Linked DNA regions of Homo sapiens. The protein of the gene in region 1 purifies or fractionates together with the protein of each later gene. This does not show direct contact. Each region holds a gene or a part of one and is shown in the gene's direction. Other genes may lie near its edges.

Region 1 (4,181 bases):
CCCAGAGTGCTGGAGTAGCAGGTGTGAGCCACCGCGCCTGGCCAAAATCTGCATTCTTTTTTTTTTTTTTTTTTTTTTTTTGAGACTGTCTCGCTGTGTCACCCAGGCCAGAGTGCAGTAGCACGATCTCAGCTCACTACAACCTCCACCTCCTGGATTCAAGCGATTCTCCTGTCTCAGCCTCCCGAGTAGCTGGGACTACAGGTGCTTGCCACCACACCCGGCTAATTTTTTGTATTTTTAGTAGAGACGGGGTTTCACCGTGTTAGCCAGGATGGTCTCGATCTCCTGACTTTGCGATCCCCCTGCCTCGGCCTCCCAAAGTGCTGGGATTACAGGCGTGGGCCACCGCGCTTGGCCAAAATCTGCATTCTTAATCACAAACTTACGCATTGAATGTTAAGGCTAAAAGGTCATCTGGAAATGCTTAATTTTAAAATATTTTCAAGCCTCACCACATTAGAGCAAATGTTAATGTAGAGCCCTGTAAAGGTGGGAAGGTGGTGTCTATGTGTGTGCTTGTGTATGTGGGGGTATAGACCATATAGTTGATATAACAACAGAATTTGGGTGTTACAGACCTTTCAGCATGGATGGATTACTAATTTTCAGGTATCGAAACTGAAATTTGATACCTGATCCTGTGGTAAAGTATGTTAAACTATGGTTTTGGAGTGATTATTTTGAGGTTCATTTTCAGCCTCACTGAACAGTGTTTTACGCACATGTGAAAAGTATCCACATTTGTTTCCAACTAAAATTTGCTTTTATTTGGTGAGAAAAGTTGTGTGCGTGTGTTTGTTGTAGGGAATAATTAGGGAATTGGAAGAGAGGCCAAAAACAAACCTGAATTACTTTTGTTTCTTGTGTTTGAGCCACGATTCTATCCAGATAGCAGTTTACTCTGAGCAGTAACAATGAACAAGCAGTATAGCATTTAGCAAACCTGGAATTGTTTGTATATGGTTTTCATTCTTGGAAGCATAAAGAAAAAATATGCATTAAATGAATTGTAAATTTTGACTTGTTAAATAACATGTTTTTCACTATAACTAATAGGATTTTAATATTTAAAGAATTTTGTTGCTTCCATGACAAAATATCCCATTGGACTATTTTATAACCTCAGTAATCAACATTTAAGAGTCCTTAATTGGAGATCTGTTTTCTCTATTACCTACCATCCTGCAATATGCTGAAATCTTTCTAAGTTGCTTATCTTAATTCTAATGGTGATAATTGAAAAAAGTGTGCTGGAAATACAGGCTCTTATCTGGTTGAGTACTGGGGGTGGGAAGGATTTAGTAATGTCATAATCTGTTGAAGGTAATATCTATAGATAACTAAGATAGTTCCTTTTTTTTTGTAGTTCTGTGACTCAGACAAATAAGATTTTGAGAATTATGTAGTTTTTAGGTGTCTGTAACATCCACTAGTAAAACTTGGCAAATGAAAGAAAATTGTGAAGTCACCACTTTAACTGAGTCAAAATTTTGTTTGAATAAGCTGATGAAAATAGACATGTACCCTAGAAGTAGATACTCTAAAATTATACAGACATGAATGTCTTTTTTAAAAGGTTGTCATTATTGACCTAATATTGAGTAATCTTTCTGCGTTATTCCAAATTGAAATTTGTTTGCTCTTCATTGTAACTTTTATGTAAAAGTCCTTTAAAAGGGGATTCAATTATAAGGCTATTTGACTATAGGGCAGATTTTTATAAGTAAACATTCCCCCAATTCCACTTATGCTAACTGTCTCATGACAGTAAAGTTTACTCCTTTTTAGAAACCCTTTCTCAGTATTTTAATTTCTGTCATTGAATCATTTAAATAATAACCTTTTGTTTTTATAGCAAAGAAATCATCTGACTTTTCTGTGTGATGTTTCTTGGCAAAATAAGCACTTGATGTATGGTCATGTACATAATGGATATTCATTAATTTTGTGATTAGTGCTGAGTTTTCTAAACTACTATCTTAAGCTCTTAGGCACCCTATTATGGATCTAATTCAAACCAATATGTAGGAAATGGAGAAAGTAGGACTTCAGTTTGCGCTTCCCAATAACTTTAAATATATCCACCTTTTCCAAGTGTTTAAGCCCTAAAACATCTATCTTTATTTTTTTACCTGGCATTTTTGTTAGAAAATAGATTACGTTTTAAAGTAACATTAAAAAAATTCTTCAGTAAGATAATTGCTTTTAATAAGTATATTTTTCTTGCTCTTGGCTCTATACATTTTTGCATAATATTTTAGTCTTGAAAAGCTTTTCATTTTCTTAACTCTGGAAAATAATAGTTTGGAACTAAATTAGTTTGAGAAATCTGAATCATCTCTCTTTAAATCTGTTCAGTTAGTCTCATGTATTCTCAGGGGAAAATGTCTTTATTTTACTAAGCGGAAGTAGTAGTCATATTGAGGCAGAAATTTGTAGCCCAAACAAGGTAGGTCTTCGCTGAAACTAATTTGAACTATTCCTATTTGAAGCAAATTGAACACTATTATAAATCTAGACTGGCTAATTAGATGGAAACTTTGATGGTTAGGTTCTTTAAGAGGCATACAATCCGTTATGAGAATGTTTATGTTTATGTTTTAATTTTTATCAAAATAACCTCAGAGGAGGTACATGTGAGTAAACTGTCTTAATGGTTGATTACTTGGAACCCACCCATTAATTCTAAATGATGTAATGGTCTATAAGGTAGTAATCTGGCACAGCTTCAGTAATGTGTGCTGTGTTTGTAAAAAGGTGAAGTACTTTATTGGCATTTTCTAAGCCCTCTGACATTGTTAGTGTCTGGGTTGGTTGGTTTGCATTTTACTATTATGGTGGAATCTGTGTTCCTTCACCATTGGTTAAGTCTGAGGAACTAACAGTGAAATTCATTGATGGCCAACTTGGATAAAAATGAAGAATGATATTTTCCCAGTTTACTACACATGGACCAATAGTGATTATTTGGGAGAGAACACTGGGTAGTATTGTTTGACTTAAGAACCTTAAATATATTGAAAAGTAATGGCATTCTTGCTCATGATTTGCATTTGTTAGTGAGGTCTCACCATAGTATTTTAATGTAGCTTCTTATTAAAATTTTATTCATAAATAGTTTAGCAGTCACAGAGGTGAAAAAAAAAAGATTTGCACCATCATATCCGAGTCTTTACTAATAAAATGAGGCTGCTTAAGTACCCAAGTGGAGCAAGGGAAGAGTTACTACAGTTACTGTAAGTCTGAGTTAGAAAAAATACAGAGCATCTAGTTATTGAGCAAAGCCCCCTTTTACCTGTTCGCTTATTCAAAGAGAAACAATAGAATTTGCTTCTCAGTACATGTTTTTAAAATTGAGAATCTCTGATGTGACAAAATCAATTTTTACAAAAGTTGAATTAAAAACTTTTAAAAATTGCTTGTCTTTGGGGGTATGTCTACATATTCGTTTAAATTTAGAAATTCCCACATGTTTAAGATATATGCCCATCCCCTTTTTAGAGTAATCAAAATTTCTATCACAGTTCACATACTGGAATACATAGTAAAATTGAGATGTGTCCAAGAGATTTTCAATGTTAATTAGCTCATTCTAAATAGCCAATATAAGGTAACTTCTGTTTAAAAAAAAAAAAAACTAGGGAAAAGTTTTAAATGTATTAGTATCAGGCTCTGAGGAAATTTAATGCACATTGACTTTTTAAACTATGGATTGAACTCCTCAGTTTAATACAATTTGTGTTTTTGTTAACTAGCAGCAGAATTTCAGCATTTGCTACTTACTGGTAGAGAAGAAAAATCCCACAGCCCTGCCAGTACAGGTTAGTTTAATCTGTAAGTACCTGATGTTCCTATTTTTTTCAAACATATCCATATAACTCACACAAGGAAGAAAGCTGTGCGGTTACTTAAATGTTAGTATAACTAATAATAGATCCATTGGACACTTTAAACACTCAGTACTTGGGCCAAAGTAGATCTAGGTTTGCTAACCCCAGTTGTAATAAAGGTGTAATACTGCTCCTTTGTTATCTCCTTGTGGTTCAACCTAAGTAGATACATTGTACATAAAAGGAAAAGACAGTTTCAGTTGGCTATGCCCTTGTTGATAGATGATATGGAGTCCAGGGCTTTGGGTCCAGGGTCTTTTACTTAAGCTATTTCATGGTGGTTCTCTC
Region 2 (4,181 bases), on another chromosome or scaffold:
AAATTGTTTGGATTGATTGAACGATGAGAGAATTTAGCTAAGAAAATACATGTCTTGTGCAACAGGGGAGAAAGAATAGTTTAGGCAGATCCACCTATGTAGAAAATCCAGACCTCTTGAAATTTTTTTCTTTTCTTGGGAAAGTATTTCCAGGTTGTAGCATGTGCCTGGCTTCAGGTGTGCGTGTCTTATGTCTGTGGAATCCTCTCGCCCATGCTACGCTGCCTCAGTCACCCATGAGCTCAGCCCTCTTACCCTTTCAGACCTCACTGACCCCTGACACTGCCAGCCCTGTCACTTGCCCTCAGAATATCTTATTTGATTTTTTTTGAGCCGGAGTCTTGCTCTGTTGCCCAGGCTGGAGTGCAGTGGTGCAACCTCAGCTCACCACACCCTCCGCCTCCTGGGTTCGAGTGATTCTCCTGACTTCGCCTCCCACGTAGCTGGGACTACAGGCGCATGCCACCACACCCAGCTAGGTTTTGTATTTTTAATAGAGATGGGGTTTCACTATGCTGGCCAGGGTGGTCTCGAACTCCTGACCTCATGATCCACTAGCCTTGGCCTCCCAAAATGCTGGGATTACAGGCGTGAGCCACTGCGCCTGGCCTACCCTCAGAATATTTCTGTGAGGGGTGGGCTAGGATATCCGCTTGTGGACTTTATATTTGTCATTTTTGCCCATAACAGTTTATTCAGCAAATACATTTCCAATGCCCCCGAGTCGTCAAAGAAAATGTGACCCTGCTGTCTGGAGTCATAGGTGGCTGCTGAGCAGTGTACCAGGGCCATCTTGGTGGCCTGGACAGCACATTAGAGAAACAAGAGCTGCTTGCCCCAGGGTAAGTTTCACAGATGAGGAGCGATTTGGGCCGAGTGTCCAAGGCTGTTTTCACTGGAGGGGAGGGAGGAACGTTCCATGTCTGGAAAGCTGCAGGTGCAAGGGTAAGGAGATAGCTCTGAATAATTGGTTTGATGAAAGACTTGCGGGAGTGTGCAGGAGTGATGGTGAATGAGGCTAGCAGTTGTGTCTTTTCTGTCAGATATAAGCTTGTGCGTAGGAGCCTCATCCTGCATTCCTCAGGACAGTCACAGAGCCAGCCCTGGGCCTGGTGTGTGGGGAGCCCAGCCACGTGGCCCACCATGAGAGCTTTTCGTCAGAGCTCCAACTGTCAGAAGTGTCAGATGTGCCAGTAGAAGGATGAGGCCGCCTCCTAAAGGAGAGGGAAGACCTGGAAAGATCAACAGCAGACGCAGTCTCCCAAAGCAAACGTGATTCTGTGGTCAGGCAGGTACGGTGACGGGTTGGTCATTTTGCATGACGAGGTGACTGCCACAATCACCAAGGGTGCCGAGTCCAGTCTCCTGGTCATGCCAGATGCTCTTGTTTTCGTGAAATTGCCAGAACATGACTGAGGCAACCACGATAGGACTGGTTGGTGCAGGCGTTAAGATCTTGGGCCTTTTTGTTCTCTGTAAGCTGGAGCCTTTGCTGGAACTTCCTGTCTTGGAAATCAGAGTTGTGAGAGTAGGTCCCCTGCCAGCACCAGGAAGGTCGGGAGAGCTGGTTTCCTCACTTTGCTCAGGGCTCAAGTACTAGCTAGTTTGTTTCATCTTCCAAAAAGAGCCTCACCTGGACCCCGCTCCTGTAGGTGGTGCCTGCCTGCTGCGCCCTCCCCTTCAGTACTTCGTTTTGTTGACGGGTTTTGCCTCCTCCCTCTGCTCTCCCTTTGTTTGGAGCCTGTGCTGTTTGATTTCCGTGTCTTGTGTGCTGCACCCTTCAGGAGAATTCAGGTGAATTTCTGGTGCTCTCCGGCTGTTCTTTTCAGAGTGGAGGGGAGTAGTACTTGCTGGTCAGTTGCGACTCTGTCTGTGAAACAGCTCTTTGTGTTGCTGAGATGACGCTAGAGGTGTAGCGTCCATGACATGTTTGTCGTCTGATTAAGCTGTGGTGCTGGCACTTAGACGGCAGAGGAAGGTGTGGCCCAGCTGTCCAAGGCCACCAGGAGGACCTTCAGCTTAGTTAGGACCAAGGGAACTGAGTTATCTGAGTGCCTGAAAAAGAACACATCAGGCCGGGCGCGGTGGCTCTCGTCTGTAATCCCAGCACTTTGGGAGGCCGAGGTGGGTGGATCACTTGAGTTCAGGAATTTGAGACCAACCTGGCCAACATGGCGAAACCCCGTCTCTACTAAAAATACAAAGAAATTAGCCAGGGTGGTGGCAGGCGCCTGTAATCCCAGATACTTGGGAGGCTGAGGCACGAGAATTGCTTGAACCTGGGAGGTGGAGGTTGGAGGTTGCAGTGAGCCAAGATTGTGCCACTGCACTCCCTCCTGGGCGACAGTGCAAGACTCTGTCTTGGAAACAAACACATCAATCCGAATGTAAGAGATTAGCAAAGCGTTTATTGGTTACTGGGTGAGTAGTTGGCCTAAGCTAAGACAAAAGAGGAATCTCCAAGTATTTTGCTACCCCTTGGCAGGAAGAGAGGGAATGCAGCTTGCGGGGTGGGGATGGGGGTGTCAGGTTGATAAGAAAACTGTGGGAAAATAAACATTTACTCCTGCCCCCCATGTCAGTAAATACCATGTGACAAAGGTGAGTTCCATGAAAGAGGCTGTTACTGAGGCCTGTGATACTTGCTTGTCTCAAAATGCTGACATATCTTTTTTTTTTTTTTTTTTTTTTTTTTTTTTTTTTGAGACAGATTCTTTCTGTCGCCAGGCTGAAGTGCAGTGGCATGACCTCAGCTCACTGCAACTTCCGCCTCCTGAATTCAGGCAGTTCTCCTGCCTCAGCCTCCTGAGTAGCTGGGACTACAGGTGCATGCCACCATGGCCAGCCAATTTTTGTATTTTTAGTAGAGACGAGGTTTCACCGTGTTGGGCAAGATGGTCTCAATCTTTTGACCTTTTGATCTGCCTGCTTTGGCCTCCCAAAGTGCTGGGATTACAGACATGAGCTACCACGTCGGGCCTGACAAAGAATCTTGATAGCGATTGAAAATGTATCCATTCATACTCAAATGAAGTAAAAAGTGCTTTTGGGTTCAAAGCCAGAGAATGTTCATGGATGGCGTTTTTGGTGCCTCAAGTGTAGCCAGCTAGAACTTTTCTTACCACCGTCCTGCTTAGTCCTACTGAAGACCTGCCTTCTACTAGGAAGCTGCTCTTAGTCCACAAAGTGGCTTCCCTGTAGTTCCACAGCATTTAACAAAATAGATTTCAGGGAGTTTATTTGTGGTGTGGCTGGTTATTTCTGCTAAAACCACTAGGAATTACCATAAAAGCTGTAGCTTGGAGAAACAGTATCTACTTGCGGGAGTATTACTGCCACCTGTGTTTTTTTTGTTTTTGTTTTGGTTTTTGTTTTTTTTTTGTTTTTTTCAAGATGGAGTCTTGCTCTGTTTCCCAGGCTGGAGTGCAGTGGCACGAACTCGGCTCACTGCAATCTCCACCTCCCGGGTTCAAGCAGTTCTCCTGCCTCAGCCTCCCAAGTAGCTGGGGCTACAGGCATGCACTACCGTGCCCGGCTAATTTTTGTATTTTTAGTTGAGGTAGAGTTTCACCATGTTGGCCAGGCTGGTCTTGAACTTCTGACCTTGTGATCTGCCTGCCTCGGCCTCCCAAAGTGCTGGGATTACAGGTGTGCGCCACCGTTCCCAGCCCTGCCATTGGCTTTTTAACCAGGTGAATTCCTGTAGATTGGGTAGATTGAAAGGACATGTAGCTGAATCATTGGTTTTAAAAGGAATGGCTCAGTTACTTCATAGCCATATAATTAAGAAATGTGGCTAGAAGGTAAAAAATTGGCCAGGCCTGGTAGCTCATGCTTGTAATCCCAGCACTTTGGGGGCTGCGGCGGGAGGATCCTGTGAGTTTAGGAGTTTGAGACCAGCCTGGGCAACCTAGAGAGACCCCCATCTCTACCAAAAAACCCTTTTTTTTTTTTTTCCAATTAGCTGGGTGTGCCTGTGGTCCCAGCTACCCAAGAGGCTGAAGTGGGAGGCTCCCTTAAGCCTTGAGAAGTCGAGGCTGCAGTGAGCTGTGATCACGCCACTGCACTACAGTCTGGGTGACAGAGTGACAGTGTCTCAAAAAAAAAAATATATATATATATATATATATACACACACACATATAAAAGAAATTAATTTTGAGATAGCTAAATTAAATGCC
Region 3 (4,181 bases), on another chromosome or scaffold:
TCACAAAACTGGGATCTGAGGACCTGTTCTCGGCCAAGGTGAGCAGCCTGGACTCTGTCAGCCAGAGGGCTGGCTGTGTGCTGAAGTTTAGTTTCTAGAGCTGAGTCTGGGCTGGGTGTGGTGGCTCATGGCTGTAATCCCTGAGCTTCGGGAGGCTGAGATGGGAGGCTGAGGCCAGGTGTTCAAAACCTGCCTGGACAACAGAGCAAGACCCCATCTCTACAAAAAATTTAAAAAATAGTCAAGCATGGTGGTGTGTGCCTGTAGTCCCAGCTACTGGGGAGGCTGAGATGGGAGGATCACTTGAGCCCAGGAGTTTGAGGCTGCGGTGAGCTGTGATCATGCCACTGCACTCCACCTGGGCAACAGAGCAAGACCCTGTCTCTTAAAAAAAAAAGAAAAAAATAGAACTGCATCTGTTAGATGAGATGTGAGAGCCTATGTCAAGCATGATGTAGTCTGTAGGACTGCGTCTGTCAGGTAAGGTTCCCGGAAACCCAGAGCCTTTCCAAGTGAGTGGCCCCACCGGTCATCTCATTGCCCAAGCCAGAAACCTCTCGGCCACACTGGAGAGCTCCCAGAATGAGTCCTCTGCACTCCCCAGTCCATCTCCGGGGCTTCAAAGTGGCTTGTTTGCTTCTGTCCTTGTCTTAGCCGCAGACTGTTCTCAGTCCTCCCACCGTGCCTCTCAGCTTCCACCCTGCGGTCCCCACCCCTTCCTTTATCCTCTGGAAGGTGCTATGCTTCCCCCTGCCTCAGTGGGCTTCCAGGAGAGAATTAAGCCCTCACAGCCCAAGGCATCTACTGGATGTAATAAGTGGGCACCTCTCCTTCGTGTCTAGAAGGTTACTAGTCTTGGACCATCCTTGGGAGAACTGAGAAGTCACTCAGATCATTTTCTGTGGGCCTTAATTCTGTCACGCTTGAGAAAGACTGCTTTGGCCACGGGACCTTTGCATGTGCTGTTATGGCTGCTGGAATGCTCCCTCAGTGCTTCTCTGGGTCATGCCTGCTCGTTCTTGAGATCAAGGGTCAAGTACCCCTCAGGTTCCTTTTATAAGTGGCCTCAGCACCATGTTCCAATTTCTCCTCAGCACTTGTTTCTCAGTTTCACATTTATTGGCATGATTATTTGATGTACGTCTCTCTCCCACACTCTGTGTCCGTTGCCTGTGCTAGAAATGTGGGAGGTGCTCCATAAACAGCTGTTAGGAAGACATCCGTGAAGTTCTGAGGACTCTGATGGCACCAAGTGGAGCTTGCAGGTGTGGCTTGAGAAGGTGCAGTGTGAATGATAGGCCTAGGTGATAGGCCGAGAAGATCGGTCAAGCCCAGATATGACCCACTGGGCCTGTCAGTGTCCAGGAGGTGGGGTGAGGCACAGGTCTAAGGTTCTGGATCTGTCAGTACCACCTGAGGAGTTGGGAATGGGCACAGGTACAAAGTGATGAGTCTTCATTGTTCAACAAAGAATGGCACAGGTGTGAGGATCTGGGTTTGTCAGTATCTGAGGATGTGGGGCCTGGCACAAGTATGAGGCACTGGGCCACTGTTCAAGCAGGTGGGCTGGGGAACAGAAATGTAGCTGTGGGTTTTTAATATCTGAGGAGACCTAGCCAAGTGTAGCAGAGAGCTGCTGGGTCTTTCATTGTCCAAGGAAGCATACCTGGGCACAAGTATGAGACTGAGAAGGTGGGTCCTGGCACCGGTAAGGGGCTCTGGGTCTGCAAGTGTCTATGGAAGTAGGGCCTGGTACAGGTATGTGGTGCTGGAAGAGGTATCCAAGGAGGTGGGCTAAGTACAGGTATGACATCTGGGTCTTCCAGTGTGTGAGGAGGTAGGATCTGGTACAAGTATGAGGCCCTGGGTCTGCTGGTGTCTGAGGAGATAACAGCAGGTTACAGGTATGAGGCCCTGGGTCTGCTGGTGTCTGAGGAGGTAACATCTAGTACAGGTATGAAATCTGGGTCTTCCTGTGTCTGAGAAGGTAGCACCTGGCACAGGTATGAGGATCTGGGTCTTCCCAATGTTTGAGGAGGTAGCATCTGGCACAGGTATGAGGATATGGGTCTTCCATGTCTGAGGAGGTAGCACCTGGCACAGGTATGAGAATCTGGGTCTTCCAGTGTCTGAGGAGGTAGCACCTGGCACAGGTATGAGTATCTGGGTCTTCCCGTGTCTGAGGAGGTAGCACCTGGCACAGGTATGAGGATCTGGGTCTTCCTGTGTCTGAGGAGGTAGCACCTGGCACAGGTATGAGGATCTGGGTCTTCCCGTGTCTGAGTAGGTAGCACCTGGCACAGGTATGAGGATATGGGTCTTCCATGTCTGAGGAGGTAGCACCTGGCACAGATATGAGGATCTGCGTCTTCCAGTGTTTGAGGAGGTGAGTTTGGACTCAGGTTTGAGGCCCTTGGGCTTCCAGTGCCTGAGGAGATAGCATCTGGCACAGGTATGAAGCCCTGAGTCTTCTAGTGTCTGGGGAAGTGAGGCTGGGTACAAGTATGAGGATCTGTGTCCATCAGTATCTGAGGAGGTGGGATCGGGTCCTGGTATGAGGATCTGGGTCTGTCCATGTCTAAGGAGGTAAGATCTGGCCCTGGTATGAGGATCTAGGACTGTCCATGTCTGAGGAGTTACCATCTGGTACAGGAATGAGGATCTGGGTCTGTCAATATCAGAGGAGGTAGGAATCTGGTACAGGTATGAGGATCTGCGTCTGTCAAAGTCTGAGGAGTTACCATCTGGTACAGGAATGAGGAGATGTGTCTTCCAGTGACTTAGGAGGTACGATCTCTTATAGGTATGAGGATCTGGGTCTGTCAATGTCTGAGGAGGTAGGATCTGGCCCTGGTATGAGAATCCGGGTCTGTCCATGTCTGAGCAGGTAGGATGTGTCCCTGGTATGAGGATCCGGGTCTGTCAATTTCTGAAGAGGTGGGAATTTGGTACATGTATGAGGATCTGGGTCTGTCAGTATCTGAGGAGGTAGGATCTGGTACAGTTGTGAGGATCTGGGTCTTCGGGTGTCTGAGGAGGTGGCATTTGGCACAGGTATGAGAATCTGGATCTTCTAGTGTCTGAGGAGGTGGGATCTGGTATTAATTATGAGAATCTGGTTCTGTCAGTGACTGAGGAGGTAGGATCTGGCATAAGCATGAGGATCTGGGTCTGTCAATGTCTGAGGAGGCAGTATCTGGTACAGGTATGAGGATCTGGGTCTGTCATGTCTGGAGGTAAGATCTGGCATGAGTATGAGGATTTGGTTCTGTTCATGTCTGAGGAGGTAGGATCTGGTGCAGGTATAAGGATCTGGGTCTTTCAATGTCTGAGAAGGTAGGATCTGGTACAGGTGTGAGGATCTGGGTCTGTTAATGTCTGAGGAGGTAGGATCTGGCACTGGTAAGAGGATCTGCATCTGTCAGTTTCTGAGGAGGTAGGATCTGGCCCTAGTAAGAAGATCTCAGTCTGTCAATTTCTGAGGAGGTTGGATCTGGCCCCCTTATGAGGATCTGAGTCTGTCAATATCTGAAGAGGTAGGAATCTGGTACAGGTATGAGGATCTGTGTGTGTGTCAGTGTCTGAGGAATTAGGAATCTGGTACAGGTGTGAGGATCTTCATGTCTCTGTATCTGAGGAAGTAGGATCTGATACAGGTATTAGGATCTGGGTCTATGTCTGAGGAGGTAGCATCTGATACAGGTATGAAGACCTGAGTCTGTCAGTGTCTGAAGTGGTTGGATCTGGCCCTGGTATGAGGATCTGGGTTTGTCAGTATTTGAGGAGGTAGGATCTGTCCCTGGTAGGAGGGTCTGTGTCTTCTAGTGTCTGAAGAAGTAGGATCTGGCCCTGGTATGAGGATCTGGGTCTGTCAGTATCTGAGGAGGTAGGATCTCATACAGGTATGAGGATCTGGGTTTTTCAATGTCTGAGGAGGTAGGATCTGGCACAGGCATGAGCATCTGGGTCTGACCATGTCTAAAGAGTTGAAGCTGTGTGCAGGTATGAGGCCTTGGGTCTGCCAGTGTCTGGGGAGGTGAGGCTGGGCATGGGTGTGAGACCCTGGGTCTGTCCATATCTGAGGAGGTAGGATCTGGTATGAGTATGAGGATCTGGGTGTGTCCGTGTCTGAGGAGGTGGGCCCTGGCACAGGTATGAGGCCTGGGGTCTGTCCGTGTCTG
Region 4 (4,181 bases), on another chromosome or scaffold:
TTTCAAAGAATTAGCTTTTGGTTTTATTGATATTCTTTTCTAATATAAGCATTTAAAAGTGTTAATTTCTAATTACTAGTTAGACATGTTTTTATTATTTAGCTTTACAAGCTTCAGGCTTTTCCTTTAAAGGTGTTGAGCATGTTTATAAATATTCTAAGGACCTCATATGCTAATTTTAACATCTTCGTCATTTCCTACTGATTTGTCTCCTTAGTAGCATTCAGATTCGTCTGATTCTTTATTTTGTCACCCTAGACTCTGTCCCCAGACAGATTATGCTTTTGATTGTTTGTTTGGCTAGCAAGTATTTTTCATTTCTTCTATGCTCATTTATCTCTCATGTTGAAAAGTGAGGGAAAATAGATTCTGTCATTAACAAAACAGATTTAATCCTAATTTGAGCAATAAAATAATTAAAATAGGCTGTTCCCTTAGAAAATATATATTTTTTAATTTTTTGGTATATAATTTTATAGTGATGGTACTTGCTGGGATTGATTGATTTGTTACAAAAACTGTTTCGGAATTCCAACAATATACATTAATAGTCTTAGGATAATTCTAGGATGTTATCTTTTGCAAACAAATGGCAGCCACTTAGGAACTCATGGAGGCTGACAGGGGCAGCATGGCACCACAGCAGTTTCTAATTTAAGAGCAGGTGCCGATAAGCAGTCTGAAAGGAGCTTTTGGTACAATAAAGTGTATGAGTAAGTCACACTGTTCTGTATATATGAGACACACATGAGGAATTTTCTGGAGCTATTAATACAGTTCTTGAATGTTCTGAATTTTTTAGAGATCTTTCTCATGAAAAAACTTTTTCAGATTGATAGGTTATATGATTGGAAAAAGAGTCCTGACTCTGATGTGGCTGCTACTTTAAAGAAGCAGAAAAAGAATACAAAAGATGAATTTGAGGAGCGAGCAAAGGCTATTATTGTAGAATTTGCACAGCAGGTAAGAAGGCCTTCCTTCTTTCTGAAGAGCCTATCTCAGAATATGTATTATATTATCTTTATAATGAAGTCAGCATTTTCATTAATACTGGTTCTTTTCCTCTGTTGACAGCAATTACTTTTTTTAAATTCTTCTTCCCTTTTCTCCTTTTTCTTTGCAGTCTGAATACTTTAATTTAGAAAACTGAGTTGACTTAGAACTACTTTGCTATAATACAGTTAATGCTTATAGGATATACATGATCATTTTTAGTGTTTATGAGGAGTTTCAAAATGATGAGCCATTTGCTCATCCGGCTTCTAGTGAGGCACACCTATTCCAGATACGTTTTCTTTACAGCCTGGCATTTTGGATGATTTTTGCTCCTAGGGTTTGAATGCTGCTTTGTTTTATGAGAATAAAGATCCCCGCACTTTTGTGTCTTTGGTACCTACCTCTGCACATACTGGTGATGGCATGGGAAGTCTGATCTACCTTCTTGTAGAGTTAACTCAGACCATGTTGAGCAAGAGACTTGCACACTGTGAAGAGCTGAGAGCACAGGTGATGGAGGTAATGATCAACTTTTCAGTTTATTGTTTTTTTTTTTTTTAAAAATAGCAAGTTCCTTGAGTGGAGGATATTTACTACTTTTAGATTTAATGAACATGGTGCATTGTATGTATGTCTTTCTCTTTGCATTAATGCCTTTTAGGTTAAAGCTCTCCCGGGGATGGGCACCACTATAGATGTCATCTTGATCAATGGGCGTTTGAAGGAAGGAGATACAATCATTGTTCCTGGAGTAGAAGGGCCCATTGTAACTCAGATTCGAGGCCTCCTGTTACCTCCTCCTATGAAGGAATTACGAGTGAAGGTATGCTGAGGTGGGAAGCATTGACACGTGGGGACTTGTACAGTGTTTAGAAGTTCTGCTGAGATGGTTTCCTCACTTTGAAAGCTGTTTGACTTAATACAGAACACATACATCCCTCGCTCTCCCTTTTATTTTAGTTGTCATCATACAGGAAGGCCTGTCTGTCAGAGTAGAGATGTGTGAAAGTACCTGCTTACCAGACTGGGCCTTTGCCAGATTCTAAACTACACTGTTATGGTTCTACACTGCTAAATACGGTTGACTCTTGAACAACATGAGGGCTAGGGGCACTGACTCCCTGGCCAGTTGAAAATCCACATATATTTTTTGACTCCCCAAAAACTTAACTCCTAATAGCCTACCATTGACCAGAAGCCTTACCAATCACATACACAGTCGACTAACATGTTTTGTATGTTTTATATATTACATACTGCATTCTTACAGTAAAACAAGCTAGAGAAAAGAAAACGTGATTAAGAAAATCATAAGGAAAATAGATTTACTATTTGTTAAGTGGAAGTGGATCATCATAATGGTCCTCATTCTCATCTTCATGTTGAGTAAGCTGAGAGGGAAGAAGGAGAGGGGTAGGCCTTGCTGTGTTTGGTGGCAGAGGCAGAAGAAAATCTGAGTATAAGTGGACATATGCAGTTCAAGCCCATTTTGTTCAAGGGTCAGCTGTAGTTTTTTAACATTTTTAATTGTGAAATAAAACATTGCTCCTGAAAAGTACACACAACATAGAAGAAAAGTTTAACACATTTTTGGGAAGCAACCAGATGGAGAATCAGAACGCTGCTGGCACCCAGAAGCTTCCTGTGTGCTTCTTCCTGATCAACTCCCCTGCCTTCCCCTCCTACCCCCTGACCTTTCATAGAGTTAACCATGGTTGCATTTTATGACAGTAACAAATATCCTTGCTTTGCTTTGTTTTTGTGTCTAAGAGTACTTCCCTTAGAAGTGTCTGTAGACTTTATGTAGAAATGGAGTTATTCTCAGTGTGTACTTTTATAGCTGGCTCTTTTTTTTTTTTTTTTTTTGGTGATAGGCTCTCACTGTCACCCAGGCTGGAGTGCAGTGGTGCAGTCACAGTTCACTGCAGCCTCAACCTCCCCGGGGTTCAGGTGATCCTCCCACCTCAGCCTCCTGAATAGTTGGGACTATAGGTACGCACCACCACACCTGGCTAATTTGTTTACAGATGGGACTTTGTCATGTTGCCCAGGCTGGTCTTGACCTCCTGGGCTCAAGCAATCCACCCACCTTGATCTCCCCAAAGTGCTGGGATTATAGGCATGAGCCACCATGCCTGGCCTATATCTGGCTTCCTTTAGTGAAAAAAAAAAAGTATATAATTTTAAGATTTCTATTCCATTGTGTGACTATATCACAACATATCTATCTGTTCTGTTGATGGGAAATGTAGGTGATCTCCAGTTTTTTATGTTTATTTTATTTTATTTTATTTTGAGATGGAGTCTCAGTCTGTCATCCAGGCTGGGATTACAGGTGCACGCCACCACACCCGGCTAATTTTTGTATTTTTAGTAGAGGTGGGGTTTTGCCGTGTTGGCCAGGCTAGTCTCGAACTCCTGACCTCAGCCTCCCTAAGTGAGCCACCGCACCCGGCCCAGTTTTTGATTTTTGTTGTTACTAATAATGCTGCTGCTGTGAACATCTCTTGATGTGTTTGTGCCAGTTTCCCAGGGTATGTATACCTAGGAGTGAAGGCCACACTTGTCTACAGTGGGTGTAACAAATTATATTCTCAACTGCAGTATTTTAGTTTCATTGTTTTACAGCTTCATCAGTTCTTGGATGTTAGGTTTTAAATTTTTTTTGCCATTCTGCTAAGTGTGTAGCTCATTGCCGTTTCAGTGTGCATTTGCCTAATTGTTAACCTGGTTGGTCATTTAAAAATGTTTATTGGCCATTTATTTCCTCCTTCGTGAGATGTACATTTTTCTTCTGCATTATCTTTCTTACAGATTTATATGCGCTTATATATTCAGGATACCGGTTTGTTAGTTGGTGTGTTTTGCAATATCTTCTACTCTTGTGACTTTTTTTTTCCTGTGGTATTTTGAGAAATGGAAATATTTAATTTTAATGTTAAATTTATCAGTCTTGTGATTATTGCTTTTTGTGCCTCGTTTAAGAAACCTCTCTCTAATATCATGATGAGATTCTCTTATATCATCTTCTACTGCTAACCACTTTTAAAGTACATTTGGTAACAAATGTTTTTATCTCTGTAGAACCAGTATGAAAAGCATAAAGAAGTAGAAGCAGCTCAGGGGGTAAAGATTCTTGGAAAAGACCTGGAGAAAACATTGGCTGGTTTACCCCTCCTTGTGGC
Region 5 (4,181 bases), on another chromosome or scaffold:
CTGGCTCTTTTCTTTTTTATTCTTCATCTTTCTATTCTCATTGCCACTTAATGTAGACCTTGGTATTCATTTCACCTGGTCTCCTTGCCTTCGTTCTTGCCTCAGTTTCTCCTCTGCCTTGCTGTCATTTGTCTCTTTGGCTTCACTACGCTGCTGTTTTCCTTTTGTTGCCAAGTCCATGTTTTGGGACACTGACATGTATGGTTATTGACCTGGCCAAGCCTTATCCTCCGCCTTGACACCACACCCCTGTGTTACATCCACACCATAACGCTTTGCGGTTTTTCAAAAACACCAAGTTGTTTTATATTTCCATGTTCCAGGGGTCCTTGTCATTTGATGAATTGTTAATCCCCAAATCTCAGTAAGAATGACACCATCTTTATGAATTCTTCCCTGATCATACTCTGTACAAAAGTTTCCTTCCCTGGGCTCCAGAACACCATGTATGCGTCAGCTGCCACTGGGTCGTGTTGTGTTTGTATGTGCATGTCATGCTGCTTTTCTGTATGGGAATCTCTTCCTTTCTATCTCTGTATTTCCAGTGCCTCGTTCATGGTAGTTACCTAGTAAAGGCTGAGCTAGGAAATCATCGCCCTGTAGCTCGTTCTCTCCACGTATATTTATTCCTCAGTGTGTACATTTCTTTCTTTCTTTCTTTTTTTTTTTTTTTTTTTTTTTGAGACGGAGTCTCGCTGTGTTGCCCAGGCTGGAGTGCAGTGGTGTGATCTCGGCTTAGTGCAACCTCTGCCTGCCAGGTTCAAGTGATTCTCCTGCCTCACCCTCCTGAGTAGCTGGGATTACAGGTGCCCACCATCACATCCAGCTAAATTTTTTTTTTTGTATTTTTAGTAGAGACAGGGTTTTATCATGTTGGACAGGCTGGTCTTGAACTCCTGACTTCTGGTGATCCGTCCACCTCATCCTCCCAAAGTGTTGGGATTATAAGTGTGAGCTGCCACACCCGGCCTAGTTTGCACATTTCTGTTCTTAATTCTTGCTGTTATTCTGTGGTGAGAAGAATTCAGGGAAAAGGGGTCAGGTCTGATGGATCCCTTATTTTGGGCCCCTTCCCTTGCCCCTCACTTTCCCGGATCTCTCTCTTGACTTCATGGAGCTTGCTAAAGTTTCCCGAAGGACAAAGGAACAGTGGTCAGTGTTGAGACCCCATACCAACTCCTGTTCTTTCCCCAGCTGGACGAGTTCTATATTGGACAGATTCCACTGAAGGAAGTGACTTTTGCAAGGCTGAATGACAACGTGCGGGAGACCTTCCTGAAGGATATGTGCCGTAAGTACGGTGAGGTGGAAGAGGTAGAGATCCTCCTTCACCCCCGTACGCGCAAGCACCTGGGCCTGGCCCGTGTGCTCTTCACCAGCACTCGGGGCGCCAAGGAAACGGTCAAAAACCTCCACCTTACCTCCGTCATGGGCAACATCATCCATGCCCAGCTTGACATCAAAGGTGAGGACTCCTCTGCCTGCCACTCAGGCTTGGCCTCCAGCGGAGGTTGTACATGCAAATGCCTGTCAGGGTCAGGCAGGCGCCCAGGGTCATGATCTGAAACTGCTGGGGCCAGTTGTGTTTCTGAAATCAGATCAGATTTTAGAGTGGAATTATGGTACATGGATTTTTGTGTGTGTGGTGTCTCCAGCAAGGTCGGGCAATAGGCCATAATCAAGCACATAACTATCTGTAAAAAAAAAAAAAAATCATATGAAGGGTTGTACTAGGTAAGATGAATAGATTGTAGTAAATCAGCCCAGGTCAGGTTGGTTGCTTGGTTGGTTTTTGAGACAGGATCCTGCTCTGTCACCTAGGCTGGAGAGCAGTGGCGTGATCTTTCCTCACTGCAGCCTCCAGCTCCTGGGCTCAGCCACCCCAGCCTCCTGAGTAGCTGGGATTATGGGCATGCACCACCACACCTGGCCAAAGTTTTTTTGATTATTTGCAGAGATGAAGTCTCACTACACTGCCCAGCCTGTTTTTAATTTTTTTTTTTTTTTTTTGAGATGGAATCTCAATCTGTCGCCCAGGCTGGAGTGCAGTGGCACGATCTTGGCTCACTGCAACCTCCACCTCCCAGGTTCAAGTGATTCTTCTGCCTCAGCCTCTTGAGTAGCTAGGATTACATTTATGCGCCACTACGCCCGGCTAATTTTTGTATTTTTAGTAGAGATAGGGTTTCACCCTGTTAGCCAGGCTGGTCTTGAACTCCTGACCTCAAGTGATCTGCCTGCCTCGGCCTCCCAAAGTACTGGTATTACAGGCATGAGCCACCATGCCTGGCCTCTTTTTAATCTTTCTATATGCTATTCTATAACCCATATAGGTTTTGGTGCCAGATTCTCAGAAATACTGGATTTTCTGGGTTTTTAGGTTTGGAAATTTGAGATAGAGAGTAAAGGAGCTGTGAACACAAGCGAGGTGGTCTGGGCTTCTGTGTTGAGTGATGGGGAGCAGTGGGGTCTGTGGCGAGCTGCAGATTGCAGTATTGTCTGGAGGAGGCAGCCATTAGTAGGCACTGGCCAGTTTGCAAGTGGAAATGAGGTTTAACATTCTTGAATTTGGTTTGTAAAAGAAAGCCAGGGCCGGGCATGCGGTGGCTCACGCCTGTAATCCCAAGACTCTGAGAGGCCAAGGTGGGCAGATCACCTGAGGACAGGAGCTCGAGACCAGCCTGGTCAACATGGTGAAACCCCATTTCTATTAAAAATAACAAAAATCCGGACGTGGTGGTTCATGCTTATAATCCCAGCTACTCGAGAGGCTGAGGCATGAGAATCACTTGAACCTGGGAGGTGGAGATTACATCGTGCCACTGCACTCAAGCCAGAAATTTGGGTTTTTGTGTGAAATCTCATGGTTTTTAAATACCATGTTTCTTTCCTCACAAGGTGTTTCTGAGGTGTTCACTCCACAGCTCCTGCAGGCTCCGTTAGTCCCCCGGTTGCTGTTCTGCATGCTTTAGTTTACAGGATAAAGAGCATGGGGTGATCGAGCCTCTGGGTTTGAATTCCAATTTTTCCAATGACCAATTCTGTGACTTTGTGTAGGTCGCTTTTAAGCCTCTAGAACAGAGGTACTGATGCTTCCCTTCTGGTGATCCAACATGGTAAAATAAGTAGAAGTGTTTTTGATAAATCGTGAAGTGTCATAAAATATGTTGTTTGTGGTAGTTTAGAGGTAGAGATAAGGTAGAAGGTCCCAAAGGTAGAGTTATGGTAGGAGAACTGAAATCCTGAAACCCAGATTCCAAGAAATTGTAGGAAACTTGAGGCCTGAGAAAGCAGGAATACCAGATCAGGAAGGAGTTAGTATCTCCATCTGACAATTGGTTCCCATTTCCCTCCCTCCAGGACAACAACGAATGAAATACTATGAACTAATTGTCAATGGCTCCTACACCCCTCAGACTGTGCCCACTGGGGGCAAGGCCCTGAGTGAGAAGTTCCAAGGCTCGGGTGCAGCCACTGAGACGGTGAGAAGTTTGTGGCTACCACAGCCCCTAGCCATGTGGGCATGGTGTCCGGGTGCCCGGAGCAGGAGCAGTCTTCGGGAGGTTCCGGGCTTTCCCGTTAAACAAAGAAGAGCCAAGCAAAGCTGCTGAGATGCTTTCAAAAGACAGGGAACTAGGGGCCAGGCACAGTGGCTCACGCCTGTAATCCCAGCACTTTGGGAGGCCGAGGCGGGTGGATCATGAGGTCAGGTGATTGAAACCATCCTGACTAACACGGTGAAACCCCATCTCTACTAAAACTGCAAAAAATTAGCCAGGCATGGTGGTGGGCGCCTGTAGTCCTAGCTACTTGGGAGGCTGAGGCAGGAGAATGGCATGAACCCGGGAGGCGGAGCTTGCAGTGAGCCGAGATCACGCCACTGGACTCCAGCCTGGGCAATAGAGCGAGACTCCGTCTCAAAAAAAAAAAAAGGGAACTAGGATTCCTGGTTTGGGAAAGGGCAGGTCTCAAGTGGTGTTTGAGCCCATTCCTCTCTCCTTGCCCTGCTCTGTCGCTCTAGGCCGAATCCCGCCGCCGCTCTTCCTCTGACACAGCTGCCTACCCAGCAGGCACCACTGCGGTGGGCACTCCTGGCAACGGCACCCCCTGCTCCCAGGACACAAGCTTCTCCAGCAGCCGACAAGATACCCCATCTTCCTTTGGCCAGTTCACACCTCAGT

Evidence for each region.
Region 2: the proteins of ZNF207 (region 1) and TRAP1 purify together in Homo sapiens (affinity purification with mass spectrometry, with the first as the bait; one large-scale study listed by BioGRID). This does not show direct contact.
Region 3: the proteins of ZNF207 (region 1) and GPI purify together in Homo sapiens (affinity purification with mass spectrometry, with the first as the bait; one large-scale study listed by BioGRID). This does not show direct contact.
Region 4: the proteins of ZNF207 (region 1) and EIF5B purify together in Homo sapiens (affinity purification with mass spectrometry, with the first as the bait; one large-scale study listed by BioGRID). This does not show direct contact.
Region 5: the proteins of ZNF207 (region 1) and SETD1A purify together in Homo sapiens (affinity purification with mass spectrometry, with the first as the bait; one study listed by BioGRID). This does not show direct contact.

Annotation. Positions count from the first base shown.
Region 1 is NC_000017.11:32,374,157-32,378,337, forward strand, and holds part of ZNF207 (BUB3-interacting and GLEBS motif-containing protein ZNF207), read left to right. Parts: 3' UTR 1-4,181. UniProt on the Homo sapiens protein: Kinetochore- and microtubule-binding protein that plays a key role in spindle assembly. ZNF207/BuGZ is mainly composed of disordered low-complexity regions and undergoes phase transition or coacervation to form temperature-dependent liquid droplets.
Region 2 is NC_000016.10:3,710,808-3,714,988, reverse strand, and holds part of TRAP1 (heat shock protein 75 kDa, mitochondrial isoform 1 precursor), read left to right. Parts: intron 1-4,181.
Region 3 is NC_000019.10:34,388,707-34,392,887, forward strand, and holds part of GPI (glucose-6-phosphate isomerase), read left to right. Parts: intron 1-4,181. UniProt on the Homo sapiens protein: In the cytoplasm, catalyzes the conversion of glucose-6-phosphate to fructose-6-phosphate, the second step in glycolysis, and the reverse reaction during gluconeogenesis.
Region 4 is NC_000002.12:99,388,887-99,393,067, forward strand, and holds part of EIF5B (eukaryotic translation initiation factor 5B), read left to right. Parts: intron 1-831; coding exon 832-963; intron 964-1,332; coding exon 1,333-1,515; intron 1,516-1,657; coding exon 1,658-1,819; intron 1,820-4,080; coding exon 4,081-4,181. UniProt on the Homo sapiens protein: Plays a role in translation initiation.
Region 5 is NC_000016.10:30,960,073-30,964,253, forward strand, and holds part of SETD1A (histone-lysine N-methyltransferase SETD1A), read left to right. Parts: intron 1-1,194; coding exon 1,195-1,465; intron 1,466-3,360; coding exon 3,361-3,482; intron 3,483-4,021; coding exon 4,022-4,181. UniProt on the Homo sapiens protein: Histone methyltransferase that catalyzes methyl group transfer from S-adenosyl-L-methionine to the epsilon-amino group of 'Lys-4' of histone H3 (H3K4) via a non-processive mechanism.